Linked DNA regions of Homo sapiens: region 2 is linked to region 1. The links come from fine-mapping of genetic effects on gene expression. A gene starts in region 1. The other region holds a variant in brackets. All regions are shown on one strand. Distances are between the middles of the regions.

The links. PIP is the estimated chance that this variant, and not a neighbour inherited with it, causes the effect.
Region 2: its variant is fine-mapped to the expression of DENND2C in whole blood (TOPMed, PIP above 0.99). The same link has a PIP of 0.9 or more in T cells and blood mononuclear cells.

The regions. Positions count from the first base shown.
Region 1 is chr1:114,662,485-114,679,159 of GRCh38, reverse strand. It overlaps DENND2C (DENN domain containing 2C), which reads left to right and starts at 9,111. Exons shown (of 21, transcript NM_001256404.2): 1 at 9,111-9,177. It overlaps AMPD1 (adenosine monophosphate deaminase 1), which reads left to right. Exons shown (of 16, transcript NM_000036.3): 8 at 633-827; 9 at 1,119-1,250; 10 at 1,646-1,809; 11 at 3,157-3,283; 12 at 3,467-3,630; 13 at 4,288-4,408; 14 at 5,078-5,251; 15 at 5,411-5,521; 16 at 5,888-6,062. The coding sequence ends at 6,046. LOC124904354 (a long non-coding RNA gene) reads right to left here and starts at 8,749. Exons shown (of 2, transcript XR_007066465.1): 1 at 8,510-8,749; 2 at 8,206-8,311. RefSeq lists an enhancer at 8,738-8,897 and a silencer at 9,018-9,107.
Region 2 is chr1:114,551,157-114,567,831 of GRCh38, reverse strand. It overlaps BCAS2 (BCAS2 pre-mRNA processing factor), which reads left to right. Exons shown (of 7, transcript NM_005872.3): 7 at 1-275. Among named protein-coding and RNA genes, the nearest start is that of BCAS2, 22 kb to the left of the region's middle. The variant G/T (reference allele first, on the strand shown) is at 9,041.

The sequences.
Region 1 (16,675 bases):
CGTGAGGATTGTGAATATCAAATGAGCTAGCCTAGAGATTGTGAAATCCAATAAACTAGACACACTTCCAAGATGTATTCTGACCATTAAAATGATTACAAGGAAGTGGGAATAGGAAATATATGAGCAGAGATTCAGGCCCAAATCCTGGCTCAGCTGCCTATACAACTTTGGACTAATTACTTAATCTGCTGAAATTTCAGTGTATAAAATTTAGTTATAAGAATATCTACCTCATAAAAGCCATCACTGTGTCATGGCTTCATAATTTCAATCCTTTCTCCTTAGGGGCTGAAAGTTATGGTAGTTACTTCACTTCCAGCTGTGTTTTAGGAGTGAAGAATGGTCCAGAAGAATGTGTGGATCAGACGTAGGAAATAAATTGGATGTACAGATATACAGAAGAAGCAAGCATTCTTATTGCCTCTAGCCTAACCTTTCACATCCTTGCATGGGCACGCCACAGTTGTAATGGATTTTTTATTGCTGGACCACCTCCACCAACTGTCAGCTCACATCCTCATTATTCACTTTGTCCCAACGCAGTGGGATTTGCAGCACCATATCCTCTAAACAGAGTAGCATAACTAAGGCTGATTGATGTTTTTTTCTTTCTTTGAATATACATACAGGTGGACACCCATATCCATGCAGCCGCTTGCATGAACCAGAAACATCTGCTGCGTTTTATTAAGAAATCTTACCAAATTGATGCTGACAGAGTGGTCTATAGCACCAAAGAGAAGAATCTGACCCTAAAGGAACTTTTTGCTAAATTAAAAATGCATCCTTATGACCTGACTGTTGATTCTCTGGATGTTCATGCTGTAGGTTGAAACGGCAATGTCAGTTTCACTCTAATACTCAGAACCCCACATGTCTTTCTCCTACAAGCCCTCCCTTCTCAGAGGTCTCTTAACCATCTTGGCTTACCACGCTGCCTGAAAGCACCACAGACAATTTTGAAGTTTGCTCATTGTCACCTGTCCCAAATTCCATTCTTGGAGCCCAATGCCCTCCCCCACTACCAGACCCCAGTTCTGCTTGACTATTTCCTAGCTCTCTCTGTCCAGACAGCTCTGGTAATAATACATCTCTGCTCTTTTTTCCTGATTCAGGGACGCCAGACCTTCCAGCGTTTTGATAAGTTCAATGACAAATATAATCCTGTAGGAGCAAGTGAGCTACGGGACCTCTACTTGAAGACAGACAATTACATTAATGGGGAATATTTTGCCACTATCATCAAGGTGAGGCGGAACCAATCACATCTATGGTATCTGGCATGGTTCTTGAGGAAAGGGAAGAAGGAAGGAAGGAAGGAAGGAAGGAAGGAAGGAAGGAAGGAAGGAAGGAAGGAGGGAGAGAGGGAAAGAAGGAAGGAAGGGAGGGAGGGAGGGAGCGATCCCTGGGGCCAAACACTACACAAATGAATATAAGGATTTCCTCTGACACATCCACTCTAATGATTTTTGAAGACCTCTATTGCTAAGGTAGAGAAATTAAGGGTGTGGTTTTGAGATTGATTAAGGACCTAGCCTTTTCAGATTCTGAAAGGAAGAGTTAGAAAGGGAATCTCCTCTCCCTAGAACCCCAGAGGAACTTGTGGGAATCCCTGGCTTGGACTTCTCTCTTGGCTTTGCAGGAGGTAGGTGCGGACCTGGTGGAGGCCAAGTACCAGCATGCTGAGCCCCGCCTGTCCATCTATGGCCGCAGTCCTGATGAGTGGAGCAAACTCTCCTCCTGGTTCGTCTGCAATCGCATCCACTGCCCCAACATGACATGGATGATCCAGGTTCCCAGGATCTAGTATGTACCTGCCCATCAGAAACTCTAGAGCCTGCCCTTGTCTCATCTGCTTCAAGTCCCCTGTATGAACAAGGAACGTGTTGCCCATCTAGAAATAAATCAGCTTTGTTAAAACAGCATTCACTATCGGGTCCTGCATGCTTGGTTTTGTCCACTCTGGGTACAGCACTCTTAACCACAGACAGGAGTTAAGAAGATCATTTCGGATCAGTCCTCTAGCTTTATGAAGATCATAAATAACTCACTGAGAATGATTAAAACTAAGATAGAATAAGAACTATGTACAGTTTGGTATACATTTTCTTTCACCTGGTCTTCTCTGTGTCAAGTCCATTCCTTCCCATGCTCATCTCTACTGGGATGTGGCTTTCTTGTATCAGAACCTTTACTACTGTCTGTCAATTGTCCCACCTACAAGTGCTCAAGTTCTCCACAATCAATGAGTATTTATCAATGGTATTGCTGAGGACATCATCTCCCTTTCATACCACCTGCTATCATTCATCGCCTTCAGGGATGGCTTCTCTTTCAGTTTGTTCAGTATCATTGATCTTTTATCTAACTTGGGTGTTTATATGTTTTCTGGCTACCTGTCTTTGTGTTCTGTGTGACCTACTGCAATGCAAGAGTTTCATCCTGTCTCTTTAACCAAAAAAAGTAATTTTTTGACTGGGATAATACTTCCTAATAGGCAGAGAGGCAGTAGGTTGGTTAGGAGTATAGATTCTGGACCCAGAGTGGTGATACTTGAATCCTGGCAATACTTAAATCAAGGTAACACAACCATTTAGCTGTGTTACCTTGGGTTAAGTTATATCACCCCATTGTGCCTTAGTTTCATCATCTCTAAAACAAGGTTAAAAACAATACCTAACTTATTGAGTTGTTATGAGGATTACATTAGCTAATATTTCTGGTCACTTAGAAGAGTGCTTGGAATATATTAAATGCTATATCAGAGTTTGTTAAATTGCAGATCAGAGGTATTCTTGGTAATCATTTCCTGTTCACTGTCTTGTAGTTACACACATATATTGAAGCTTTTATGACGTAATTGCATATTCCTCTATGAGGACTTAGCTGTGAAGGTTTAGTTTTCTTATGACAAAGGTTTGTAAAAAAGATGGGGACATAGGGTCCACCAAAAAATTTTTATTTCCTATGTGCTGCCCAAACTGAATCCCTCTCTATAGGGGACCAAAAAGAATGTATGAGGAGCATGGACCTAGGATAGATATACCACGTCTTTTCCTGTGCATGACATTCGATTCTCTGGTTCCCTCATACTGGGGCTATCAGTCCTAAAAATCTTTTTTTCTCCTAAATTCTCTTCATTCTTGCCTCTAGTGATGTGTTCCGTTCCAAGAATTTCCTTCCACATTTTGGAAAAATGCTGGAGAATATTTTCATGCCAGTGTTTGAGGCCACCATCAACCCCCAGGCTGACCCAGAACTCAGTGTCTTCCTCAAGCATGTAAGCATGACCCTTCAGGCCTTCATACTGCTGCTCATGAACCAGCCTTCCTACCTGGTCATGACTAATTCTTGGTGCTTATCTCTTTATGTTTGGTCTGTGCCTTTGGACCTGAAAGTTTGTGTGAGGACTGGGACCCTGAAGTTGGACTGAACCCATTGCATGGCTCACTTTTCCTAACAGATCACTGGCTTTGACAGTGTGGATGATGAGTCCAAACACAGTGGCCACATGTTCTCCTCCAAGAGTCCCAAGCCCCAGGAGTGGACATTGGAAAAGAATCCATCTTACACTTACTATGCCTACTACATGTATGCAAACATCATGGTGCTCAACAGCCTGAGAAAGTAAGTAGGAGACAGCTGGAGCTAGGAGGGTCTATTTGACACAGCTCTTTCCACATATATTGGCAATTAAGGTGGTCAGGGGCCTCATGCATTACTGTGATGGTTCCAATTGGCCCAAATCAGAAATTTCTTTCTCTTAACTTTTTTCTTCAGTTTATTTATTTTGGGGCAGAAATCGGTATTTCGATGCTTTCAATAACTTTCACAGTTCCTTTTTTTTTGGGAAGTTTAGGAATTTATACTAATCATTGTGCAATTAATGATAAAACTTCATATATTTTGCCCTTCTTGATATATTTGGGTAAGGAATAAGTAGAGGAATATTATACTGGAGTTTTCTGGAAACATTTCTCCCTTAAAATTTGAATAGAATAGAATAAATGATGAGATGTTGATATTGGTAAATTTCCTATTGAGACTGAACGTATTTCCATCCAGGCAATCAACACTTTATTTGCTTCCTTACCCCCATATCCTCTGCTGCCTCTTTTTGGAAACTTTGTATTTAGCAAGAATTAAGATTATGATTTGGGACTGTTTTGCTGAATCCTTTGGATGGCTTACTTCCTTCCAGAGTGTTCACTTTTCTACTGAATTTTCTTGTGAATCACTCCATACCCAGAACCTGCGATTCCAATAGCAGTTCTATTTCCCCAGGGAACGAGGCATGAATACGTTTCTGTTCCGACCTCACTGTGGAGAAGCTGGAGCCCTCACCCATCTCATGACAGCATTCATGATAGCAGATGATATCTCTCATGGCCTAAATTTAAAAAAGGTGAGTTGGAAGCTCTCTTCTTAACTTTTACATTGGAGCTAGAGGAATCTTTTTTCCCTTAACCAACCATACTGTCACAAGTCATTATCGACACTGCAATCATAATCAAGTAGAGCATAAAAGATTTTTTAGTTTAGTGCAGTTCATTCTACAGAAAGAAGTAAAGGGACTTGCTCAAGATTACCTTGCTAGTTGCTGTCAGATAAAAGTTAACGCAGATCTCCTGACTTCTAGCTTAGAATCCTGACAAGGGATAATTCAGAGATGGCCTGGCTTTCCTTAAGCTAGTTTTTGCCAGATTTCTTGTTATAGCATGCTTCAAGATGTTTTTTTGTGAGAGTCAGAACTTTCTTGTAGAGAGAGAGAGAAAAAATAATGTTTCAAGGCAAAGTCTTTTGCCTGAGACAGACCATCTAACGTAGGCCATTATAGATCAAATAAACAATCTGGTTTGACTCAATGTTTCTGAAAATTAATGTATCCTAAGTACATTTATTCTAAATAGCATTTACATTGAAAAACTCCTAAATTCTCCTTACTAAGAGACTTGAAGAACAAGTGATAATTTTGTTGAAAGCTGAAGCTTAAGGCAGACCATGAGATTGTAGTGTTTCTAGTTTGTATTCCTTTTTCAACATCTTTAAATATTTTTTTACTTTTCTTTTTCAGAGTCCCGTGCTACAGTACTTGTTTTTCTTAGCCCAAATTCCCATCGCCATGTCACCACTAAGTAACAATAGCCTATTTCTAGAGTATGCCAAAAATCCTTTTTTGGATTTCCTTCAGAAAGGGCTAATGATCTCACTGTCTACAGATGACCCAATGCAATTCCACTTTACCAAGGTATAGTATGGACTTGGGCAATACAAGCATATTTTGCTGGACTGTTGTTTCCCGTCCAGAATTTGAAAGTCAAATAAAGGTATTTCATTATTTTTTCAGGCAGGATGCATATTATTTATTAATTCACTCCTCTTTTTTCCTCATTTAATATAACTGCAGGAGCCCCTAATGGAAGAATATGCTATTGCTGCACAAGTCTTCAAGCTGAGCACCTGTGATATGTGCGAAGTGGCAAGGAACAGTGTCTTGCAGTGTGGAATTTCTCATGAGGTAGACCTGTCTTCAAATGGCTTCCCTTCTGAGTATAGGGTCTGCTAACTTGAATACCGAAAAAGTAGTTGGGAAACACATGTAGAAAAATTGTTCCACGAATCATATGCAGTTACTATGGACAGGGACTAGAAGGGATTATTCTATCTCTTTGCCTGTGCCTTTTGGGCCAGGGAAGTAAAATACACTTGATTTCTCAGCAGACTGTGAACACTGAGGCACTAGATGGGTGCTTTTAATGGTCTATTATTATTATTCTTTTGTCAGTGGCTAACATAAGGAAGGAATTTTTGTAAAGAATGCAATTATTGTCTATACCAGGGTGAAAAGAGACAACAATCATTCTGCCATCCTTTTCTCTTATAGGAGAAAGTAAAGTTTCTGGGCGACAATTACCTTGAGGAAGGCCCTGCTGGAAATGATATCCGGAGGACAAATGTAGCCCAAATCCGCATGGCCTATCGCTATGAAACCTGGTGTTATGAACTCAATTTAATTGCTGAGGGTCTTAAATCAACAGAATAAAAAAAAGTAAACCAAATAATAATATGAGTGAGAATTTCATTGTAGAGTTTGAATAATAATAGTTACCTGTTATTGAGTCCCTACTATAAACCAAGGAAAGTATTAGATGTTCCACTGAAATTATTTCATTTAATCCTTCTCACAACCTTTATAAAGTAGATATTATTATCTCCATTTTGGGGGAAATTAGTACACTAAAGCTAATAAGGTTAATAACCTGCACAAGGATATACCTGGTGAAGGGTAGCAGTGGGAACGTGGGTTTCTCTGACTGCAGTCTCTATGACTTTCAGGCAAAATATCTATTAAAGCTGGGCAAAAATACAAGCAAATGACTTTTTGGGAGATAGGCTTCTGGTTTATAGCATGAAATTTGCTTAAGGCACTTAGAACCACTAAAAAGTTCTTTGACAAGGTATAAGTGAATAGTGGCTTTTTTAGACAAAACCAGAGGGCGTACCTCAATATAGAAAATCAGTATTTATGAGTTATTATATTGAGGGAGAATTTATCTTACAAAAGGATTCTTAGCTTTAAGGATGTAATTGACAATAAGATTATAGTGAGCTAAACTGGTACATTTTAAATGATTTTGCTTACCAAAGTAAAATGTACATATAACTTTTAAGAAGCATGCCTATTACTTAAGGTCAGGTGAAATTCCAAATGGGCAGATGATACTTCCACACATACAACTGTGTTGGCATCTAGTGGCTGGGCTGACATTTCATTCAACTTATTCAATAAACAATTATTGATCAAATAGCTAAATTATCAGGTACTATTCTAAACACCAAAGGTATACAGAATAAGATTTCATTCCTATCCTCTAGTTGTCCTCAGCATGAAGTTATAGTGTGGCTACAAGTAAAAAATAGAATTTTGTGAAATGTCTTCAAAAGTAATGAACTTTTTTCTTTTTTTTGAGACAGGGTCTTGCTCTGTCACCCAGGCTGGAGTGCAGTGCAGTGGTGTAATCACAGTTCACCGCGGCCTCGGCCTCCCAGGCTCAGGTGATCCTCTTACCTCAGACTTCCGAGTAGCCAGGACTACAGGCACATGCCACCACACCCAGCTACTTTTTTGAACCTTTTGTAGAGACGCGGTTTCACCATGTCACCCCAGCTGGTCTCAAACTCCTATGCTCAAGCGATCCATGTGCCTTGGCCTCCCAAAGTACTGGGATTACAGGCGTGAGCCACTGTGCCCAGCCTGAACTTTCAAATGGAAAAAAAATTGAAAGCAAATTTCTGCACGTTTCTATATTCTACACATGCAGCCATAAGCATAGGTGTAACCCTGATGGCATGTTTGTACTAGCTCTGGTGTAAGAATCTCTTCCTGATTTCTGAAGTTGAAGTTTTGTTTGTTGAGTATTTGTGAACCCTTTAAAGAACCAGATTTTATTTTACCTTGGCCTCCTCATCATCAAAATAGTACAAATTGCTACATTAAACACTGTATTCTCAGACTTCAAAGGGCATTAACTACCATTATGTATATCTCCATCTTACCCATGAGAGGGCAGTAGAATACATACATGTGAATTCATTTATTAATCTATAAATTTGGTTTCATACGTGATACTTGGAATTCAACCTGCCTTATTTTGCCAAATAATCTTCCTGAATGCAGGGGTCAAAAAATACATTTCTGGGCTGGGTGCAGTGGCTCATGTCTGTAATCCCAGCACTTTGGGAGGCTGAGGCAGGAGGACTGCTTGAGCTCGGGAGTTGGAGACCAGCCTGGGCAACATAGCGAGACCCTGTCTCTACAAAAAAATAAAAATAAAAATATTAGCCGGGGGTGGTGGTGCATGCTTATAATACTAGCTGCTTGGGAGGCCGAGGTGGGACGATTCTTTGAGCCTAGGAAGTTGAGACTTCAAGTGAGCTATGATTGGGCCACCGCACTCCAGTGTGAGTGACACAAAGAGACCCTGTCTCAATAAATAAATAGATAGACACATTATATAAGAATTTTTTTTTTTTTGGTGGGGGAAGCCCATAATGATCAGTGTGCAAAATTTACTACAAACAATATCCACATTTATTTCCTCATTGGGACATGATTTTTTTTAAGTATGTCATTACTTTTTTTTCCCCCATCATAGAATGTAATTTCTGTTTTACTGTCTACAGGTGATAGTTTCACAACGGTTTGGGATATGCTACCTTTATTGTTTGGGTTAAGTTTGCTTGTGACAGTCATCCGTGATACGTAACTAAACACCTCTCTTTCTGGTAGTCTTCTATTTTGGTACCTCTGTGTGAACAAATGTAGGAAGAGTTTGGTCACCAGACCCAAGAGGCTCTGGCTGGGTGGGGTGGGGTGGGGTGGGGCGGGGCGAGGCGGGGTGGGGTGGTTAGCGAGTGCCTGGGAAACAGGCTCAACTGATCCTTGTCCCGCAGCCTCGGTGAAACTGGGTTACAGCTTGCAGTAGGCACAACACCACGCACATACCTAAGCAAGAGCGTGTTGCAGGCGGAGCGCTTAGGCATGTGTGTCTCAACAGGGCGTGGGGGCTGACCTCACGCACTGGGAGTATCAAGGCACCCCCGTTCTGAGATTCCAAGCCTGAGGTGCCGCGAGAGTTATTTGCTTCTCTTGACGTTTCAAGTTGGCACCGTAGTGCAATTGTTTGCTCACTGAGGTCAGCCTAGGAAACAGTGCTTGGATTCCCTGATTAAGCCAGGCTTTATCTTGTTGAGTAGTTGTGAAGAGTAAACCTTCACATGAAGCATAGGGCCGTCTCCGTGGGGCCGATGCGACGGCAGGCGAAGGCGATGGAGCTCTGGCTCGAGGGCTTGGCCGGACGACGGTGACACTGGTCGCCCGCCTGCTGGAACTGCAGTGACCGAGGTCCTGGCAAGGTTCTGGCCATACAGCGGACTTGAGGCGTGGTGGTTCCCCTCACCGCCGGCCGGGGCGGTGTCGGAGGCGGGCATAGCGTGAGGGGTGGGAATAGGAGCCAATAAGAACTGAGCCTTGCCAGGGAGGGCGGGGCTAGGGGGTGGGGCTGCAGCCGGGACGGGGCCTTCGGCAGGGCCTGCGGGGGCGGGACGGAGCGGACCCGAGTGATACCCGGGAGACTAGCTTGGCCACAGGAGACAACGTTGAGGTACAGACAGGTAAGAGTCGGGGTGATTCGGCGCGGGGTTTTAAGCCGCAGGGGCTTCGGACTCTCGGGGCTGTCGGCATCACCCTTCTGGGCGTCGGGTGCGGGGCTGTGGCGCCGCGGCGTAGTCCTCGGACGGTGCGAGCCGAGCTGGCGGAGGTGGTGTCTCCGCGCCCCGCTGTCTCGGCACCTCCTCCGTCCGGAGGAGCAACCGGTTGTTGGGCCCAGCTTTGGGACGTCCTCTCGTGGCCGCACGGGTTGTGGCGGAGCCTGGCTGAAGACCTCCTCGCTACCTCAGGGGCTTGGGGACCCCTAGGCTGGGCGCCGCTCTCTGCTGGGGAAGAGGGAGGGAGCGCCCGGCAGCCTGGGGAAACGCGGGCTTTCTCCAAAATTAGCCAGTGAGCTTGAACTTCGACATGCTGGGACGATGCACTTCCAAACAATATTTTGCTTTTTTTGGTGTTTTGATTCTTAACAGCATCTAATACGCACAATACCGAAAGTTGTCAAGTAGAATTTTAATTTAAAAGTCTGACAGTGGAACACCTAAGAGCTTTTGAGTAACTAGAGCTGTATAGCAGCTGATGATTAGATTATGAGTCAAAAGGCTCAAGTCTAGGGCCAGAACCCGCGGAACCAGATGTGATACCTCGGCCAAATTAACTTCCTGGGCCTCTCTTTCCGTAACTGTGAAACTGGCAAGTTCATGCCTATGGGTATTCTCAGGGTCAAATCAGATGAGTGACAGTATTCTACAAATGTCAGATATTTGAACGTGCGTGTGGAGCGTGTATATTCTGTGAAGCAACTACTACTTGCCTGGTACATAGTAGGCACTTTACAAACGTTTACCCTAAAGCTAGTGATTCTTCTGCAGTGTTTTAGATAAAGTGATAGATCCTTGCTTACTGTGTAAATAAGTTGTTTAAACTTTTCCCACAAAGTGACCCCCATTGTTTGAGTGTGTCCTATTTTTAAATGATTGATGAAATTTTCTAGAATAGCACAGTGGTGTTATCTATACACTGTTGCTGAATCATTTACCGCGAAGTCTGTAGCAATCAAATAATCTACTTCTTTGTCTTAGCTAAATAGTTGTAGTTTAAGATACCTGCTAAAGTAAGCTGGGAATATTGTTCCAAATCAAGACTTTAATTTGTTTTTGTGAATTGACGGGCTGCTTATAGGAAGATTTAAATCTTCCAAAATATTGTTAATATATAGCCATATTTTTTCATACAGCCTTTATTATAGACGTTTTTGTTCTTTACTATGGATATGTGTGCGAGGGATTTTAGCGGGGAGATGGGAAATAAAAAAGAAAATGGCAGTTTTGTAACCTGTAGGCTTTTGCTGGGGATACTTGTAGGCCTGTTCTGAGTTTGCCAGGCAGAAACCAGGAAATGTAGTAATTATGTGTCTTGGTCTTTCATTAGTTGGGGTGTGTGTGTGTGTGTGTGTGTGTGTGTGTGTGTTGAATGTGGCAGTACGTTTTTTAAATGCAGCAATAAAGGAAGAATATTTATTTTTCTTAATGACAATAAGCAGTTTTCTAAAGCTGGAAATTATATTACTTTTAAATGGTCTGTAGTGAGTCTTAAGTTATAGGCAAGAATTTTAGACCACTGGATACCAAGATCAAATTAAATGAAGTAGTAGAGGGAAAGTTACTAGTGAATGTAATTTTTGTGTGTGTTGCTTTAGAAGTTTTACTTAAACATGTTTCAGCAATTCAGTGGAGGATGGGTCTTTTGAAGCTACTTTAAAACATGAGTTTTAAACGTACTCCATGTATAAATTTTTCTGTGATTTACAATTTCTTGATCTTGGAGGTCTGAAACCTTACATTCACATTGTTTTTTGAGGGCCTACTACACAATAGGCACAAGATTATATTTATGTAAGAGCAGTATGTAATTCCTGTCATCTAGGAGATTCCATTCTACCAAGTGGGCTAAAATAAGTACTGAAAAAACAAAAGCTGTTTTTAAAGCGGATGGTAACAATAACAACATCAGCTATCATTCATTGGTACCTAGTCTGTGCCAGGCAGTATTCTAAATTCTTTACATGTATTAGCTTACTTAATCCTCACAACAGCACCATGAGGGATGTTATTATGATTATCTCATTAAGAGGCATAGAGAGGTTGAGTAACTTGCCCATGATTAGACAACCTAGATAGCAAAAGTAGGATTCAAATCAGTCATTCTCCAAGGACCTGATTGTAACCTTTGCGCTATACTGAGTTTCAAATTCTGTGAGTGAGATACAAATGACATCTAATAGGTATTTTAAAAAGAGGTCTATAAAAAACTATTTCAAAAAGAAGGAAAGAAAGAGGAAAAAATAAACTGGTATTGCAATACCAGTTTTATTGCAATTAAAACGATGTAATTATAGTTTATCTGTGGGAACCCTTTTTTTGTTATTGTTGCCAGTGAATGACATGGGGATGATTCTAAGCTCTCAGTCCCTCAGTAACAACAGTTATGGCATTATCTTAACAATATGAGGTGCTTATTTTTCATTAAAAAGCACCTCATAACTTCTTTCATTAAGAAGTTAAAAATATCTGTTCTCAGACTGTAAATTAAGTATTAGATTCAAGAAGAGAAAATGCTTCCCTGTCTTTAAGAAGCTTATAACCCAACATGTAAATAAGGCTCTACAATTTCAGCATGATAAGAGCTGTAAAGAAGTATAGATTTAGGTACGTTTGAAGAGTTGCAAGAAAAAGAAAGAAGTATAGATAGAATTTAACCACTGATGAGGAAAAATCATTCTGCGTGTGGTAGGGAGGACGATTAGAGAGAAGATATTAAATTTGGCTTTGAAGGATGAATAGGAGTTTGCTGAAATTGGGTCAGGAAACAGGAGATATGAATGAAAACCAGGGATAAGTGTGCAAGTATATGGTATGTTTGAGGAATGTGTTGTAGTCCATTGTACTGAAGGCCAGGGTGTGTAGAAATGGGTGGTTTGGCTAAAGGAGATGGTGCCTGGAAATAAGATGAAAAAATAAAATTGCAAAGCTTCCTTGCTGATTGCATTAGGATCACTAAAATTGCTAGGTAATGTGGTATTTCACTTCCCTTCATTTGGAACAATGAAATGAGTAATTAGTTCAGTTTGGCAGAATGTTTCACTAAAAAATATGGTGTTAAAGGTACTTTTAATACTTTGAAGTACAAGATATAAGATAACATTACAGACTTAGGTAAGTAAAAAGTTAAGATTTAGGGCCAGGCGTGGTGGCTCATGCCTGTAATCCCAGCACTCTGGGAGGCCAAGGCAGGTGGATCAAGAGGTCAGGAGATCGGGAGCATCCTGGTCAACATGGCGAAACCCCATCTCTACTAAAATACAAAAATTATACGGGTGTGGTGGCGTGTGCCTGTAATCCCAGCTACTTGGGAGGCTGAGGCAGGAGAATCATTTGAACCAGGGAGTCAGAGGTTGCGGTGAGCTGAGGTCGTGCACCTGCACTCCAGCCTGGCAACAGAGTGAGACTGTCTTTAAAAAAAAAAGTTATGATTCAGAAAAAGAGGGAAAAAAGTCTTCTGATGCTAGGTCTTGAAGAGCCAGAGTATCGTGCTAAGGACTTTGGACTTGATTCTAAAGACAATGGAGAGCCAGTGAAGGATTTTAGATATAGGTGTTTAGGAAAGATAAGCTGAAAATGGTTTGGAGGCTGAATTGGATGAAGAGAGACAAAAGGTAGGGAGATAAGTTAGGAGGCTGTTGCTATTGAAATAGTCCAGATAAGGGAGGATAGGGGCCTGGAGTAGGAAAATAGTAATAGGGATGGAGAGGAGAGGATAGATAGTGAAGGTGTAGAATTTGACAGGGCTTTAAAATCAATTGGCTCAAAAGAGGAACAGAAAAGTAAATGACTTAGTTTTTTAGCTTGGAAAACTGTTTGGATGAAGGGTCTTGTTTTATTTTTTAATATTGGAGGAAGATAATTGTTTCCATTTTGAATTCATGTTGAGTTTGAATTGTCTTTGGAGCATTCAAGTGGAGATGTCGAGAGAGGATCTAGAGTCCAGAAGCCAGGCTAAAATTGGTGATTCAGATTTCAGAGGTAGCCAGTAAGTGTTAATTGAAGCCGTAAGAGCAGATGAAATTGCTCAAGGGAGTATGTAGAATTAGAAGAGAAGAGGGCCAAGAATAAATGATTTGCTTTATGTAAGTAGAAGGAATTATTTATCTATGCTAATTTTGTCCAACAAATTATTATTATAAAGCAATGAAATGGATTTTAATTGAAAGTTGAACAACTTTTACATCCAAATGAGTCCTGTTCTTTTAAAATTTCATTTGGAAGTCACTCATTTATTCCAGAAGTACAGATGCTCCTCAATTTTCGATAGGGTTATGTCTGAATAAACCCATCATAAGTTGAAAATATTGTTAGTCAACATGTGATAAACTTACGAAGGGTTTATCCGAATGTAACCCCATCATAAGTTAAGGAGGGTACTGAGCACATACTGCTTTGGCACCATCATAAAGTTGAAAAATTGTTAATTTAAACCATCATTAAGTCAGGGACTGTCTGTATTGCCCAAAGTATTATTGGAGCTTCTCTTTGTAAAAAGCTTTATAGCAAATTCACAGCTACACAAGAACGTAGATCTTCTGGCTTTATTATGGAATTGTTTTTCTGTCTCTTTATTTGCATGGCACATATAACTTATTTACTTTTTTTTTTTTTTTTTCAAGAGACAGGGTCTTGCTCTGCTACCCTGGCTGGAATACAGTGATGCAATCATAGCTCACTGCAGCCTGGACCTCTTGGGCTCAAGGGATCCTCCTGCTTCAGTCTCCTGAGAAACTAGGACTACAGGCATGCACCACCACCCCCTGCTAATTTTTATTTTTTATTTTATTTTTCTTGAGACAGAGTCTCTCTCTGTTGCCCAGGCTGGAGTGCAGTAGTGTGATCTCAGCTCACTGCAACCTCTGCCTCCCAGGTCCAAGTGATTCTCCTGTCTCAGCCTCCCAAGTAGCTGGGACTACAGGCGCACACCACCATGCCTGGGTAATTTTTTGTATTTTTGGTAGAGATGGGGTTTCACCATATTGATCAGGCTGGTCTCGAACTCCTGACCTCAGGTGATCCACCCGCCTTGGCCTCCCAAAGTGCTGGGATTACAGGTGTGAGCCACCACACCCGGCCTGACCCCCTGCTAATTAAAAAACAATTTTTTTTGCCCAGGCACAGTGGCTCACACCTGTAATCCTAGCACTTTGGGAGGCCAAGGCGGTGGGTCACTTCAGTCAGGAGTTTGAGACCCACCTGGCCAACATGGTGAAACCCCATCTCTACTAAAAACACAGAAATTAGCTGGATGTGGTGGCGCGTGTCTGTAGTCCCAGCTCCTTGGGAGACTGAGGCAGGAGAATCACTTGAACCCAGGAGGTGGAGGTTGCAGTGAGCTGAGATTGTGCCATTGTACTCCAGCCTGAGAGACAAGAGCGAAACTCTCCATCTCAAAAAAATTTAAATAAATAAATAAATACATAAATTTTTTTCTTTTGTAGAGATGGGGTTTCACTGTGTTGCCCATTCTGATCTTAAACTTCTGGGCCTAAGCACTCCTTCTGCCTCAGCCTATCCAAGTGTTAGGATTACAGGCATGAGCCACTGTGCCCAGCTTCCGTTCACAATCAATCAAAGCTTCGAAAGCATATTCCTATCCCATCACTGGATCTTTAGTTCTTGGAAGTCATAGACAAAGCTTAAAAAACAACAAAAGACTGTGTCCCCATGCCTATAATCAGCACGTTGGGAGGCCAAGATGGGAAGATCACTTGAGCCCAGGAGTTCTAGACCAGCCTGAGCAACATAAGGAGACCTCGTCTCTACAAAAAATTTTAAAAAATTAGCTGGCATGGTGGCACATGCCTGTGGTCCCAGCCGCTTGGGAGGCTGAGGTGGGAGAATTGCTAGAACCCGGGAGGCAGAGATTGCAGTTAGCCAAGATCGTGCCATTGCACTCCAGCTTGGGTGACAAGACAAAAAAAAAAAAAAAAAAGAATAGCAGTATGGTCTTCTAAGGCAGGGGTTAGCAAATATTCTGTAAAGGGCTAGATAGCAAATATTAATATTTTGTACTTTGTGTGCCATACGGTCTCTGTCATAACTACCCAATTCTGCCAAAAAGCAGCCATAGACAACGCTTCAATGAATAAGCATGGACTGTGTTCCAATAAAACTTTATTTATGGACACTGAAATTTGAATTTCATATAATTTTCACATCACAAAATGTTATACTTATTTGATCTTTCCACCCAACCATTAAAAAATGTAAAAACCACTCTTAACTCAGAGGCCTTGCAAAAACAGGCAGTGGGCCAAATTTGGCCCACAGGTAGGCCATAGTCTGCCAACCTTAACGGATCTTTGAAATATTTGAATTCGTAAGCTTGGTTTAGAAAAAAAAAATCATGGTTCTTCGAAATCATACCTCCTGTTTTTAAATTCTAGTACATTTCTTAAAATAATTAAAACATTTTCATTCATCCCCCATTTCTCATTTAAATGGAAAATACTCCCTTTACTGGTTTGGAACTTTAGATACAGAGAAATAGATTAACTTGTACAGAGTCAGAATAAAAAAGTATGTTTGAAAAATGTTTTTTGATATTCAGTGTTCTTTACTGAATCAATAAAACATTGATCTTTTCGCTTCAGTGAAAGTGGGGACATTGAAACCTGGGTGAAATAAAAGATAAATTTGAAGGGGTATTCTGCACTGGTTCCCAGAGGGTTGGACAGGATGGAATTTTATTCTCTTTTTCTTCTGCCCTGAATGAATAAGTTTTATCCTAAAGAAAAGAAAACATGATAATGTCTTCACTTTATAAGCAGTATAGCAAATTATAAGACTGAAGGATTAAGTAGATGATGATAAGAGAAAAAAATTTAAAGGACTGACTTTTTCACATCTATCTATTCCAGGTATTTACCCATTTTTTTCCTTCCTCCCTTTCCTTTTCCCTCTTCCTTCTTCCTTTTCCTTTTCTTTTCTTGGTCTTTCTCTGTCACCCAGGCTGGAGTGCAGTGGCACAATCATAGTTCACTGCAGCCTCCAACCCCTGGGCTCACACGATCCCTCCACCTCAGCCTCCCAGTTAGCTCGCATTACAGGTGCACGCCACCAAGACTGGCTAATTTTTTAAAAAACTTTTTGTAGAGATGGGGTCTCAATACGTTGTCTAGGTTGGGCTTGAACTCCCGACCTCGGGATCCTCCCATCTCAGCCTCCCAAAGCGCTGGGGGTACGAAGCCATTATGCCTGGCCCCTATTTTTGAGGAATAAATTCAAGATTTTTTTTTTTTTCTTATGAATCTTAGACTTCTGGTTAGTGGCGTGAAAACAGAGTTTTTAGCATTTAGTTCTGGCAATATTAATCCATTTATATTATTTGAAGGTTGTGCTGTACTTTTTAAAGTTAAATGTCTAACTTTCGTAGTTTTCATAGCAGTGATAAATATTT
Region 2 (16,675 bases), 110 kb after region 1:
TATCCAAGGATCCTTATTTAAAGCTTTCAACATGTACAGGAAGTTGGAAATTTTTGGTTTATGACTTTGTCTAATAAAGAGATAGTTCTAAACACATTCTTGATCACCAAACAACTTCAGAAAGACAGTGACTGTACAGTTATCATTATCATCATCATCGTCATCATCATAGGTAACAGTTATATCAAGCTTAATATGTGCTGAACATTGTTCTGAACACTTTAGGTAGATGAACTAGATGTATGTGAATAAAAATTATTTGGTCCTCACAAAAACCTCAGGAGGCGGTTACTGTTTTTCTCATATGTGGACATGTAACAGACACCAGTTAAATAACATAACTTGCCAGAGTTTTATAGCTGAAAGTGTCAGCTTTTTTATAGAAAGTTGTCAGTCAGGTTTTGAACCCAATAGTCCAGCTCCAGAGTTAATGTTCTTACTTCTCTACTTGTAAGGAATTAAATTGTGTAAAAGATTCCTGCCCAATTCAGAAAAAATATTTGCAACATATCAAAAGGTAGTGTTGCTAGGTGTGGTGGCTCACGTCTGTAATCCCAGTGCTTTGAGAGGCTGAGGCAGGAGGATCACTTGTGTCCAGGAGTTCAAGGCCACCATAAGCTATGATTGTGACACTGCACGCCAGCCTGGGTGACAGAGCAAGACCCTGTCTCAAACGAAGCAAGGTAGTCTTAATGTATAAAGACTGACTGAAAATTATTGCAAGGTCAGTGGCTCACACCTGTAATCCCAGCACTTTGGGAAGCTGAGGTGGGCAGATCACGAGGTCGAGAGATCGAGACCATCCTGGCCAACATGGTGAAACGTCATCTCTACTGAAAATACAAAAATTAGCTGGGCATGGTGGCATGCGCCTGTAGTCCCAGCTACTCGGGAGGCTGAGGCAGGAGAATCGCTTACACCCAGGAGGCAGAGGTTGCAGTGAGCCGAGATTGCACCACTGCACTCCAGCCTGGCGACAGAGTTAGACTCTGTCTCAAAAAAAAAAAATTACTGAGAGGTGTTCATCTCAATAACTGATAAATATAAATTTGAAAAATCTAAAAATTATTTTTCAATTTTGAAAAAATAAAAGGATGTTCATTATAATACAAAATAAACCTAGAACTTTTTGATCTGTGATATTGATAAATGGTTAGTACTTTCGAAAGTACCTTAATACAATTGAGAGCCCCATTTCTTTTTGTTTGTTTGTTTTGTTTTGTTTTGCACTTGTTGCCCAGGCTGGAGTTCAATGGTCTGATCTTGGCTCACCGCAACCTCCACCTCCTGGGTTCAAACAATTCTCCTGCCTCAGCCTCCTAAGTAGCTGGGATTACAGGCATGTGCCACTTCGCCCGGCTGATTTTGTATTTTTAGTAGAGACGGGATTGCTCCATGTTGGTCAGGCTGGTCTCAAACTCCCTACCTCAGGTGATCTGCCCAAGTCAGCCTCCCAAAGTGCTGAGATTACAGGTGTAAGCCACCACGCCTAGCGAGAGCCACATTTCTGTGTTGAAGATAGGGATTGTAGGAATGAACGCATATGGAGTGTTGTCATCCATCTCTTCATTGCCCACCCTCGAACTTCTCTCAGAAGGAAATTGGAAGAGTTGTGGAGTATCTGACCAGCCTAAGAGAAAAGACCTACTACAGTTGTTGAAATTGAGAGTTTCCCAACAAATGACCAAGCCAGGACACAGAGCAGAGAGGCTCAACAAACCACCCCGCAACCAACACAGCTTCTAAACCGTGCTTTAGCTCCCGACTTTTAAACATGAATAGACAGTTGAGGATCACCAGATAAGGCAGTTCTACATTGTGAAAGATAAGGAGTAAAACAAATCTGGGAAAGACTATGGAGAAATAGATGATGCAAGAAGAAAAAAATTGTTTTTAAGAAATATATCCTCAGGTTGGGTGTGATGGCTCATGTCTAAATCCCAGCACTTTGGGAGGCCAAGGTGGGAGGATAACTTGAGCCCAGAAATTTGAGACTAGCCTGGGCAACGTAGTGAGACCCCCATCTTTACAAAAAATAAAAGAATTAGCCAGACATGGTGTTGTGCGCCTATAGTCTCAGCTACTTGGGGGGCTGAGGGAGGAGGATTGCTTGAGTCCAGGAATTCAAGCCTTTAATGAACTATGATTGTGACACTGCACTCCAGCCTGAGTGACAGAGCCGGACCGTGTCTCAAAAAAAAAATCCTCAGAGGAGATACTGCAGCCATAATAATATATAAGATGTTATTAAGAAACAGAACAAAACAGCTTGTCGAAATTAAAAAATATGGTAGCAGGAATTAAAATTCAATGGGAAAGTTAGGAATTAAAGTTGACACACTCAAAGAAAGTGGAGGCAACAAAGACAAACATGGAAAACAGAGAAGAGAAAATAGGAGGACTGGTCTGGAAAGTCAGTAGCCGAATAACCTGAGAAAACAGGAGGGAAGAAGTCATCAAAATAATTCAGAATTTTCCAGAACTGATTGATTGATAGAATTTCCAGAGTCAAAAGGTCACTGCACAATGGATGAAAATAGACCAACTCCGGAGCATGTTACTTGTGAGATATGAGAACACCCAAGCACACGAAGATTCTGCAGGCGTGTAGGGGGGACGGAGGGGCGGATTGTTACATATAAAGGATCAAGAATCAAAATGTCTTCACGCTTCTCAACAACATCTTTGGAAGCTAGAAAGAAGATAATGTAGAAGTGCCTTTGGAATTCTTACAAAAAATTATTTCCAACCTAGAACTCTTTACATAGCCAAATTATAAGCCAAGGGTTATGGTAGAATAAAGACACTTGGAGATATATGAGATCTCAAAAGCATTTACTTCCTGAATATCATTTCTCAAGGGGCTGCTGAAGGATGTGTGCTCTTCCAGCCAAACACAGGGAAGCAGTGACGGGACTCTTCCAAAGAGCTTGGTGAAGGGCTGTCTGTCAGGATTATATATGTACACTCCGTAGAAGGCAACGGGTTCAGATTGGAACACTGTGGCTCATGAGAGCTGTCATCACAAAGATGGCTGCTATCGTTGTACCATCATTTTACACTGAGAAACAGCCCAGGGGAAAACTGGCCCACAATCTGACCGTGTTCTTCCCCACCACACGCAGGTTATTGGGATGCAAGTGGTGGTTGGTTACATGAGTAAGTTATTTAGTGGTGATTTGTAAGATTTTGGTGCATCCATCACCCAAGCAGTATATGCTGCACCCCATTTGTAGTCTTTTATCCATTGCCCCACTCCCACCCTTTCTCCCGAGTCCCCAAGACTGTGTTCTGTGTTCTAATGAAGTTCCTGTTCCTTCTTTGACCTGCTGGAAATGTTCTACTATGTACCTACTCTTGGAGAGCTTGCAAGTAGAAAATTCATAGGAGTTCATCCCTGAATTTATGCCTGCCAAATGCATGTTCCAGCCTGGCCAGAAACCCCAACAATATTAAGCCCTTTGTTTCCAAGAAATCACTTAAAGCTTTGTTCCCTCACTTCCCCAGAATAGGCTTTGTGACTGTCAGGGAAGCTGAAGCCAGACCAGCTTATTTTTCCTTGGGAGCTTTCATCCAACCATTGAAATTGTGCCTTTTATTTACAAAGGTAGGCTGTGCTTACTTCACAGTTTTTATATTAATTACCTTTCATATTCATTTACATGTAGATAGTTGTGGAAGGCTGCAAAATGGCCCCTAAAGATGTCCAGATCTTAATCCCTGGAACCTGTTAATGTGTTACTTTCCATGGCAAAAGAACTTTGCACATGTGATTAAGGCTCTTAAAGTGAGATTATCCTGGATTATTTGGGTAGATCCAATGTAATCCCAAGGGTCTTTTTTTTTTTTTTTTTCAGGATCTCATAGTAAAGTTTAAGGAAAATGGTGCATGCTAAATTTGGATACATATCAAGTTTTTGGGTTTTTTTTAATATATATTTTTTATTATACTTTAAGTTCTAGGGTACATATGCACAACGTGCAGGTTTGTTACATATGTATACATGTGCCATGTTGGTGTGCTGCACCCATTAACTCGTCATTTACATTAGTTATATCTCCTAATGCTATCCCTCCCCGCTCCCCCTACCCCACAACAGGCCCCGGTGTGTGATGTTCCCCTTCCTGTGTCCGCGTGTTCTCATTGTTCAATTCCCACCTATGAGTGAGAACATGCGGTGTTTGGTTTTTTGTCCTTGCGATAGTTTGCTGAGAATGATAGTTTCCAGCTTCATCCATGTCCCTACAAAGACATGAACTCATCATTTTTTATGGCTGCATGGTATTCTATGGTGTATATATGCCACATTTTCTTAATTCAGTCTATTGTTGGACATTTGGGTTGGTTCCAAGTCTTTGCTATTGTGAATAGTGCCACAATAAACATGTGTGCGTGTGTCTTTATAGCAGCATGACTTACAATCCTTTGGGAATATACCCAGTAGTGGGATGGCTGGGTCAAATGGTATTTCTAGTTCTAGGTCCCTGAGGAGTCGCCACACTGTCTTCCACAATGGTTGAACTAATTTACAGTCCCACCAACATGTGTTCCTATTTCTCCACATCCTCTCCAGCACCTGTTGTTTTCCTGACTTTTTAATGATGGCCCTTCTAACTGGTGTGAGATGGTATCTCATTGTGGTTTTGATTTGCATTTCTCTGATGGCCAGTGATGATGAGCATTTTTTCATGTGTCTTTTGGCTGCATAAATGTCTTCTTTTGAGAAGTGTCTGTTCATATCCTTTGCCCACTTGTTGATGGGGTTGTTTTTCTCTTGTAAATTTGTTTGAGTTCTTTGTAGATTCTGGATATTAGCCCTTTGTCAGACGAGTAGGTTGCAAAACTTTTCTCCCATTCTGTAGGTTGCCTGTTCACTCTGATGGTAGTTTCTTTTGCTGTGCAGAAGCTCTTTAGTTTAATTAGATCCCATTTGTCAATTTTGGCTTTTGTTGCCATTGCTTTTGGTGTTTTAGACATGAAGTCTTTGCCCATTCCTATGTCCTGAATGGTATTGCCTTGGTTTTCTTCTAGGGTTTTTATGGTTTTAGGTCTAACATTTAAGTCTTTAATCCATCTTGAATTAATTTTTGTATAAGGTGTAAGGAAGGGATCCAGTTTCAGCTTTCTACATATGGCTAGCCAGTTTTCCCAGCACCATTTGTTAAATAGGGAATCCTTTCCCCATTTCTTTTTTTTTGTCAGGTTTGTCAAAGATCAGATGGTTGTAGATGTGTGGTATTATTTTTGAGGGCTCTGTTCTGTTCCATTGGTCTATATCTCTGTTTTGGTACCAGTACCATACTGTTTTGGTTACTGTAGACTTTGGGGGCAGGGCATAGCCAAACAAAAGGCAGCAGAAACCTCTGCAGACTTAAATGTCCCTGTCTGACAGCTTTGAAGAGAGTAGTGGTTCTCCCAGCACGGAGTTTGAGATCTGAGAACGGACAGACTGCCTCCTCAAGTGGGTCCCTGACCCCTGAGTAGCCTAACTGGGAGGCACCCCCCAGTAGGGGCAGACTGACACCTCACACGGCCAGGTACCCCTCTGAGACGAAACTTCCAGAGGAATGATCAGGCAGCACCATTTGCTGTTCTGCGGCCACTGCTGCTGATACCCAGGCAAACAGGGTCTGGAGTGGACCTCCAAGGGTCTTTTTAAGAGGGAGGTAGAAGGTGGAAGGTTAGAGAGGAGAAAGGTTGCTAACCTGCAGGCCTTAAAGATGAAGGAAGGGGACCATGAGCTGAGGAATGCAGGTGGTGTCTAGAAACTAGAAAAGGCAAGGAAACAAATCTCCCATCAGAGTGTTGGCCAGGAGAAACTGCTTTGCGGACCCACTTTGTTCTGACTTTCAGAATTGTAAGATGATAAATATGTTTTGCTTGAAACCACCCACTTTATAGCAATTTGCTACGGCACTGATAGGAAACTAATACAATAGTTGGTAAAGAGTGATGATAAATGTTGAGGAAACTAATACAATAGTTGATAAAGAATAATGATAAATGTTTGATTTAACATGGTGAAAAATCTACATATGTTTATTATAGGCAAATCAGAAAATGCAGATAAAAAGAAAATGAAAATTATTCATAAGACTGCCACTCAAGGTACTATGTTTATTTAGTGCCAGAAGAACACAGAAACCACATTTCATTTAATTTCAATACAAATTTGTTGGATACCATAGAATCAAAAATAAGTTGGACTAATGGGACACTCTGTAAACCTGTTCATGAACAGAAGTTTCTATTTCTGTTTCACCCTGCTTTCTACCCTGAGAACTAAGATTTATTATATTAGACCCACTTCACTTCCTCTATCCTTAGAAGTCTATTTCTGGATATTAGAAGTCTGTTTGCAAGTGACAGAAAGCTAACTAAAACTACCTTAAGCAGTAAAGGGGGATTTATTGGTTCATTTAATTTGTAAGCACAGAGGTGGAACTAGCTGCATCGTCAACTAAATCCAGGGATTCCAGTTGGGCATGGTGGCTCATGCCTGTAATCCTAGCACTTTGGGGAGGTTCAGGCAGGAGTTTCAGGCTGCAGTGAGCTATGATCACACAGCTGACTCCAACCTGGGTGACAAAGTGAGACCCTGTCTCAAAAAAAATTTTTTTTCAATAAATAAAATATAAAAAATAATTCCAGAGATCCCGTGTCGTCCTGTTTTTCATCTCTCTGTTTCTCTTTCTGGCCATATTGTCTCCTACAAATAGGCTTCCTCTATACAACAGAGGCCAAAGCCACAGGCAGCTCCAGACTTACATCATCTCAGTTTAGCAGCCTTAGAAGGAAGCAAATATATCAGTATATATTATTTCAGAGGATTTTGATTGATGTGCTCTAAATTTCACGTTCAGTCCTTAGAGTCAGAAGTATAGCTAGGACTTGGGGGCACTGTGATTGGCCAGATATCGATCATATACCTGTAGAATTGAGGGTAGAGTACTATGCTTGGCAGTTGATTGGATTGGAGTAATAGCTCCCCAAAGTAAGATAGGATGGCGCTTCTATCAGGAGAGGAAGTAGTTGGGCAGATAATGACAACATGTCTATTACACCCTGGATCTTACCTGAGTTAAGAGGCAACCCCTTGGCCAGGAGCAGTGGCTCGCGCCTGTAATCCTAGCACTTTGGGAGGTGGAGGGGAAAAGATCACTTGAGGCCAGCAGTTCAAGACCAACTTGGCCAACATAGTAAGACCTCGTCTCTATAAAATAGAGAGAGAGAGGTAACCCCTTTCACTTAGCTGGCCCAGTATGATAAACAGTTCACCCAACTACTCCCTAGGATTTTTTTCTTTCTAAAGAAAAATATAATAGGTTATATTTATTATGGCATAATTTTAGTAGTGGAGAACTGGGATGGTCTGTCTGTTTCATAGTTTGTGCTGGGAAATAGCCATAAAAGTCAATAAGCTGGCTATTGTGGTTTGTTGAGAGATGTGGGCCAAGTAATTTGTTATTCACTGTAACTTAAGATCTGCAGTTTTTAGCTGGGCACGGTGGCTCACACCTATAATCCCAGCACTTTGGGAGGCTCAGGTGAGAGGATCGCTGAAACCCAGGAGTTTGAGACCAGCTTGTGACCTACATAGTAAGACCCCTATCTTAAAAAAAAAAAAATTAAATGAATAAATAAATAAATAACCTGCAGTTTCGTTTTTGTGTTTTGAGACAAGGTCTCTCTCTGTCACTCAGACTGGAGTGCAATGGTGCAATCCTGGCTCACTGCAACCTCTGCCTCCCAGGTTCAAGTAATTCTCCTGCCTCAGCCTCCCGAGTAGCTGGGGTTACAGGCACATGCCACCACGGCTGGCTAATTTTTGTGTTTTTAGTAGAGATAGGGTTTTGCCATGTTGGCCAGGGTGGTCTGAAATTCCTGTCCTCAAGTATTCCACCCGCCTTGGCCTCCCAAAGTGCTGGGATTACAGGTGTGAACCACACCCAGCCAAAACCTGCAGTTTTTAATAACTTTCTTTCTAAATATATCATACAGATTCAAGATGATCCCTATGCATATCTCACTTGGTTGTATTTTTACATGTCTTTGAGAAGGAAAGGGGTAAACCCAGAACTTGTTGTCTCAGTGACTTACTGTAGCAGGGACTACATACTTGCCCCTCTAATATATGTTATCCTCTCCTATAATAATAGAAGTTTTAGCTGGGCATATGGATGCTCAACTAAAAACTTAACTGCTAGCTTCCCATCCAACCATGTACATATGCTGTGTGACTAGGTTGTGTCCAATGAGATAGGAACTGAAGTGATGTGTGCAACTTTCAAGTTCTGCTTTTAGTTACCACATTTTACCAACCAGAAATCTTTTTTTTTTTCTTGAGACGGGGTCTCACTCTGTTGCACAGTCTAGAGTGTGGTGGCACAATCTCAGCTCACTGCAGCCTCAATCTCCCGGGCTCAAGTGATTCTCCCTCCTCAGCCACCCGAGTAGCTGGGATTACAAGCAGACGCCACCATGCCCAGCTAATATTTCTGGTTTTTGTAGAGATGGGGTTTCATCATGTTGCCCAGGCTGGTCTCAAACACCTGGGCACGAGTGACCCACCCACCTTGGTCTCCCAAAGTGCTGGGATTCCAAGTGTGAGCCACCACACTCAGCCAACAGTTTCTCTAACATATTTTTTTTTCTCTAGATCTTAAAAACATTTGGTCAAGGAATTTAGATATGGACTTTAAGGGTACATAATTCAGGATAATAAAAAGCTCAGCTTCATCTTAGCTCAGTGTTCCCTTCTTCCTCCACACTTTACAACTAAATGCATTCAAAGGAATACGCTATTGATGTGTGTACAACAAAGTGGTCTTAAATTGAATTCTGTCAATGGCCATATATATTAGACTTTTGCTTATAATTACAATTAAATTTTACCACTCACTAAAACTAGCCCTAAGAACATCTTCTTAGTCACACTTAAATGTTATTTGGCTTATTTTCTATTTTGGGCTTTTCACTAAGTTTCAAGATCTTCTTTTCAGTCTGCTATCTATTATGCTCTCCTACTTTTAAAAGAGG[G/T]CCTGCTTATTTCCTGTAGTATTCTTGTTTGACCATAGAGGGCACAAGGTCATTAAAAAGTGAAATAAATTACCCATGCAGCAGCAATTTATACCTGCCTGCTTTCCATTACATGACTTGAGAAAATTGAGATAATTAAATTTACTCTGATGTTTCATATATTGAAGGATCCTTGCATTTTTTTCAGAGTTTAAATTTAATCCCACATAGACTTCACTTTTATTGTTAAAATTATGAAGTGCGTCCAACTCACCAGAAGTCTAAAATAATTAGTCCTGCTAAATTGTTAAATTCACACTTTGGAGATTTGTAAAGAAACAGAGCTCTACTTTATATAGAGTAGCAATTACCTTGCCACCTTAAATCTCAATTTCTAACAAAAAATAAACAATAGTGGATACTTATGAGTTCTAGTTATTACAATTCTTTTGGATTACTTTGTTCCATTTTTTTAAATGCAGTGCTAGTATACCAATAACACAGGAAAAACAGATTAGAAAATTAGAAACTACAGTAGCATAAAACAATGAAAATTGTAGCATAATAAATTTTTATCATGAGTAATTATACAAATTCCCAGTTTCCTTCCAAACTCACTGAGTTTAGTCAATTATAAAAAGGGACTTTATAAAGAAATCAACTATCTTTAATACATCAGAGCCTTTTGTGACATAATAGAGTATAACACAATGAGCACATCTTTTTATGTTAATACCAACTAATCAATTGTAATTGGTATAATTACTACTTTGCTATTTTCTCCTAGTATTCATTATTGCTGAATACATAATTACAGCACAGGATATAATTTATTCTTTGGCAATCTGTCAATTACAGACCCAGCATTTTCAATATATTTCCCTTTACAGAATTTGTTGTATTATAAAGAATGCCATATAAACCCATCTATTTCCATATTAAAAATTTGATAATTTCAGTGAGCACTGAATGTTATTTGTCTCTAAAACTGTATCTCTTAATCGTGTTGAGGAAAGTACATTTTACTTTATTTTTTATTATGGTTTTATTTTTGCCCTTTGCAAACAGAGGAAAGGACATTTTTAAAAACCGATGTCATAAGGACAAAAAAGTGATGTAGGAGCCAGGCAGGGTGGCTCATGCCTATAATCCCAGCTACTAGGGAGACTGAGGTGGGAGGATTGCTTGAGCCCAGGAGTTCAAGGCTACAGTGAGCCATGATCATGCCACTGTACTCCAGCCTGTGCAACAGAGCAAGATCCTGTCTTTAAAAAAAAATTAATTAATTAAAAATTTTAAAAGGACATAGACCATTGGAAATATAGACGGACAATTTCTCGTTTTTCACCCTTCATCTTTCCCTCTTAAGAGCTACCAGACGGGCACAGTGGCTCATGCCTGTAATCCCAGCACTTTGGGAGGCCAAGGCAGGTGGATCACGATGTCTGAAGTTCAAGACCAGCCTGGCCAACACGGTGAAACCCCATCTCTACTAAAAATACAAAAATTAGCTGGGCATGGTGGCCAGCACCTGTAATCCCAGTTACTCAGGAGGCTGAGGCAGGAGAATCGTTTGAACCTGGGAGGCGGAGGTTGCAGTGAGCCGAGATCACGCCATTGCACTCCAACCTGGGCAACAAGATCAAAACTCCATCCCCCCCGCCCCCCAAAAAAGCTGCAAGACCAATTGTCTCAGCAAGATGTTTTGCAGGGGTACTTTGATGTTCTGAACACTCTGAGGTAACCATTCTAACAATGCTGATCACTTTATTACCACCAACTTTACAATTTTTTTTGCCCATTTTTATTCCAAGTTTTAAATTTCTGAACTTTGTTCTAAAGCTTTTAAACTAAAGGAGAGTAATGTGCTTAGCTGAGAGCTGCCTGATAGTGTCATAGTTGGTGATTTTTTTTTTAAGTAGTGCTAAGTGCCAAGTATATAGATTAAGATATTTTGGATAAACGCAAAAAAAAAAAATCAAATGGTGTCACAGTTTCTTTGTGATCCAAAACAACACTCTGTAAAATTTCCAGTTGTGGACTACCTCCGTGGAGTACCTGGTGTCTCCAAGAGTATTACTATACAAGACACTGAGCAATGCACTCCATCAACCTATGGTATATCCTGCTAAGACATAGTTACCACCAATTCATTATTTCCTTTTGATTGATATTCCTTACATATGCTTAGCTATTTGTATCTACTACTGTCTCCACAAAAACTGAACTGAATGTATAGTGCCAAAATGGGTGTGCGATTTTAGAGAGTGCAGGTTTTATAAAAGGTAGATCTTGGTGTTCTAAACTACAAATGTCAAAATTGTTAAAGAACATTCCTCACGCCAAAATCTGGGCTCATAAAATGTTTCTACAGTTTAATTGTTAAGTAGCATAGATGAAAAGTTGAGTACCACAGATGAAAAAGTTGAGTAGCATAGATGAAAAGTTGAGTGAAAAGTTGAGTGAACGTAATTATCATGTATGTTTCAGTTTGATTCCCCAGAAAACAGATGGAAATTAGAATGTAGGAAGTTTATTAGGAAGTATTCTTGGGATCAACACCTGTTGAGAGCAAAGGAAGCAGGATTGAGCAGGAGATGAACTGTGCTACACTTGCAACAAAGGCCTCAGCCAGGAGGCTCTGAAGCTAGGGGGAGGACACTTCAAGGTTTTTCTGAACTGGGGTGGGGAGGCTGGGCCTTTGTAAAGCTCATCAACCAGTCATTAATGTGCACTGCTCCTGGTAAGGTGGTGGGACATTAGGCAAAGTGGTTCTGTTCAGCTGAGCGCAAGTCCTGGAGAAGGACTTAGTTGAGAGTTGCCAGCCGTCTACTCTCCCAGAAGGTGGGGGCATGCATGCATGCATCAGACCTGGAGCGAGGTGATCTGGGCAGCACACCACAGCAGCCACTGTAGTGTGAAATTGGCGATGGGAAAACGTATCATAGCGATAGACATTTTGTGCAATAAAAATAGCTATCAATATATCCCGTACAATAAACATCACAAACCTGCCCAACAACCTACAGTAGCTCGCCACTGCTTCCATGTCTATTCTAAGTCCCAACTAAGTTATATAAGTTGATTAGTAAGGTAGGCCTTGTGCTACCTATCTAAAACCTTACTTCCCATGAATTCCCAGCCGAGGTCTTCAAGTTATCAGGTAGGTGAACTCATACCTTTATTTCTGCCCACATTATTCTTCTCTATCTGAATCCAGCCCAAGTCCACTCTCTTCCTCCACGAAGCTTCTATACACATATTATTACACCTTCCTTCTCTGGATTGCAGCCCACAGGCTATGCCACAAAATTCAACCCTTAATTATAAATGATCTCCATCTCCAGTGGGTTTTGTTTGTCCAGTTTTTTTGTTTTGTTTTGTTTCAGTAGCTGTGCAGAGACTAAGCTCCCCAGTAAACCGAAAATTCTTCTAACCAGGCATGGTTGTGCGTGTGTGTAACCCCAGCTACTTGGGAGGCTGAAGTGGGAGGATCGCTTGAGCTCAGGAGTTCAAGGCTGCAGTGAGCTAGGATTGCGCTACTGCACTCCAGCCTAGGTGACAGAGCAAGACTCCATCTCTAAAAACAAACAAAAAACTAAATTAAGAAAGCTCTTCTAGAGTAGGGGTTGTGCCTTTCTTTCCATAGCATCTATCATGTTAATGGGCACATGGTAGACACTGAATAGATTCAAAGGTTTAGAGACAAAAGTGATTTCAGAGATCACTTAGTCCAACCTGATTTTACAGGTGAGTTAACAGAGACTCAGATTAAGTTGTAATCCTACTTTGAACTCCCACATTACTTTGTTTGTACCTCTTTTATGGTATTTATTGCTTTCTGTTTAGTATTTTAATTATCTTCCTACCTGTTTTACCCATCTTTCTCTGTATTTTCATGGGCTATTTCTCTTCTTCTGCCCATTGCTTGAATGCTGGTGTTCCCTAAGGCTCTGTTTTGGATCAGCTAACCTGAGCAATCCATTCCCATAGACTTTAATTACCACCAGTGAAGTGGATGACTCACTAATCTGTATCTTTAGCCATATCTCTCTCCCCAGCAGTATTGCGACTGACAGCTCCACCTGGATGCTCTGCAAGATTCTCGAACTTGACTTGTTGTCCTTGACTCCTCCCTAATCCTTATATCCAACTGGGCACCAAATCCTATTCATTTACTTTGGAAATGGCACACTAATCCTGATCTGTGTATTCACTGCCACCTGTCATGAATTCAGGTCCTCCTCATCTCTGAATCATAGGAATAGTCTCTTCCTTGTTCTCCTTATAAACTTTCTTGTTCTACTAGTTAACCCTCAAAGCTGGTACCAAAGTAATCTTCCCCCAAAATTAATCTAATAAAGCCATTCCTTTGCTTAAAAATCATTGGCTCTTTGTTCCAATTTTTTTTTTTTTTTTTTTTTTGAGACAGAGTATCGTTCTGTTTCCCAGGATGGAGTGCAGTGGCATAATGTCAGCTCACTGCAACCTCTGCCTCCTGGGTTCAAGTGATTCTCCTGCCCCAGCCTCCTGAGTAGCTGAGATTAGAGGCACCTGCCACCAAGCCTGGCTAATTTTTGTATTTTTAGCCTAGACAGGGTTTTGCCATGTGGGCCAAGCTGGTCTCGAACTCCTGACCTCAAGTGATCTGCCTGCCTCAGCCACCCAAAGTGCTGGGATTACATGTGTGAGCCACTGCGCCCAGCCTGTTACCTAAAATTAAAATCTAAACTTCTTACCATGGCATACAAAGTTTTTAAGAGAAAGGCAGATAGTGGCCAGACATGGTGGCTCACACCTGTAATCCCAACACTTTGAGAGGCCAAGGCAGGAGGATCACTTATGCCCAGAAGTTTGAGACCAGCCTGGGCAATATAGTGAGACCCTGTCTCTATTTAAAAAAAATTAAATAAATAAAAGAAAGGCAGATAGTGAACCTAGCAGTGAAGTCAAACTGCCAGGAGTCAAACTGTCATTTAATAGCTATGTGATATCAGACAAGTTTATTTACTTCTCTGTGTCTGTTTTCCAGGTGGAAAATTAGCACAATAATTCTACTGTATCTGATAGGGTTGTTGTAAGAATTACATAAATTATTACACATTAAATGCATAGAACAGTGCCTGGCACATGTTAGATGCTGCTATTATTTCCAAATCTTGTAAATCTCGTCTGCCTGAACCCCTTCCTCAAACCATATTTAAATTTTCAGCCAGACGTGCTCATGCCTGTAATCTCAGGCATTAGAGATTTACACACCTGTAATCTCAACACTTTGGGAGGCCAAGGCAGGCAGATCACTTGAGGTCAGGAGTTTAAAGCTAGCCTGGGCAACGTAGCAAGATCCCGTCTCTACAAAAAAATAAAGTTATCTGGATGTGGGCACGTGCCTGTAGTCCCAGCTACTCAGGAGGCTGAGGCAGGAGGCCAGCTTCAGCCCAGGAGATCAAGGCTGCAGCGAGCTATGATCATGCCACTGCACTCCAGCATGGGCAACAGAGCAAGAATCCACATCTAAAAAAAGAAAAAGAAAAGAAAAAATTTCCTGTTTCTCTACACCCACCATGATGCATCCTTCCATTTTTTACCCATTTTCATGTGCTTTTTTCTTTCCTTGGAATACCTTCCCCACTTTGTTTCTTGATGAATTTATGTTTATCCTTCAAGGAAGAGGTTAAGGATAGTAGGCTCTCTGCAGTCTTCTCCATGATGCAGAGGTATATTCATCTTTATACAAATTTTTTAAGTTGCAGACATTTATCTCAAAATAGAGTAGGCTGGGCATAGTTGCTCACACCTGTAATCACAATACTATGGGAGGCCAAGGCAGGTGGATTGCTTGAGTCCAGGAGTTCAAGAACAGCCTGGGCAACATGGCGAGATCCTGTCTCTACAAAAAATAGAAATATTAGCCAGGCCTGGTGGCATGTGCCGGTAGTCTCACTTACTTGGGAAGCTGAGCTAGGAGGATCACTTAAGCCTGGCAGGTTGGGGCTGCAGTGAGCTGTGAGTGTGCCGCTGTACTGCAGAGACCCTCTCTCAAAAAAAAAAAAAAAAAAAAAAAAAGAGTAACTATTACCAAAAAAAAAAAAAAAAGGATGAAGTTGAGATATATGCTGGTAACAGAAAGATATTTGTGGTAGGCAGTTTCTACAGTGGCTCCCAATTCCTGCCTCCGATATTAACACCGTTGTATCATCTTTTGTGTGTGTGGGCTGGACCTAGTGACTTGCGTCTAACAAGTAGAATATGGCAAAAGTGATAGAGAGTCACTTCTGAGATTAGATGATAAGAGACTGACTTTCACTCTACTCTCACTCTCTGACTCTTGTGTTCCTTCTGATGAAGCAAGCTGCCATGTTGTGAACTGCCCTATGGAGAAGTCCATGTGGCAAGGAACTGAGGGTGGCCTCCAGCAGACAGCCAGAGCAAAACTGCACTCCGTGGTCCAATGGCCTGGGAGAAGGTGAATTCTGCCAACAACATGAGCAAGCCTGAGTCTACTGCAGTCCCAGGCGACACTTTTTCTTTTCCTTTCCTTTTCTTTTCTTTTCTTTTTTTTTTTTTTTTTTTTGAGACAGTTTCACTCTGTCACCCAGGCTGGAGTAAAGTGGCACAATCTCTGCTCACTGCAATGTACGCCTCCTGGGTTTCAAGCGATTCTCCTGCCTCAGCCTCCTGAATAGCTGGGATTACAGGCACCTGCCACCATGCCTGGCTAATTTTTATTTTTATTTTATTTATTTATTTTTTTTGAGACTGAGTCCCGCTCTGTCGCCCAGGCTGGAGTGCAGTGGTGCGATCTCAGCTCACTGCAACCTCCACCTCCCAGGTTCAAGTGATTCTCATGCCTCAGCCTCCCGAGTAGCTGGGATTCCAGGTGTATGCCACCACGTCCTGCTAATATTTGTATTTTTAGTAGAGACGGGGTTTCACCATGTTGGCCAGGCTGATCTCAAACTCCTGACCTCAAGTGATCCACCCACCTCAGCCTCCCAAAGTGCTGAGATTACAGGCATAAGCTACCGTGCCTGGCCTAATTTTTGTATTTTTAGTAGAGACAGGGTTTCTCCATGTTGGCCAGGGTGGTCTCGAAATCCTGGCCTCAAGTGATCTGCCCACCTCAGCCTCCCCAAAGTGTTGGAATTACAGGCGTGAGCCACCGGCCTGTTTTTTTTTTTTTTGAGCTGGGCTTTCACTCTATCACCCAAGCTGGAATGCAGTGGTGTGATCATAGTTCACTGCAGCCTTAAATTCCTGGGCTCAAGCAATCCTCCTGCTGGGCAACATTTTGACTTGCAGCCTTTTGAGAGATCCTGAAACAGGAGCCCCAACAAAGCCACATCCAGATTCCTGATCCATAGAAACTGTGAGATAATAAATGTTGTTTTAAGCCACCAAGGTTTGGAGCAATTTGTTATGCAGCATTAGATAACAAATAACAATACTATATTGCTAAGTGAAGGAAGTTGCAAAATAGCATATATATATATATACACACACACACACACTGTCGTCGCATTTGCACATAAAAACACAATTACATGTTTTTTCTATATAGTCACATCTCTTTTTACTAATTTTCACGTTAACTAAGAGGTTATTTGCATTTATGTAAGGTACATAGGGTAGACAAACTCATAGAGATAGAAAATG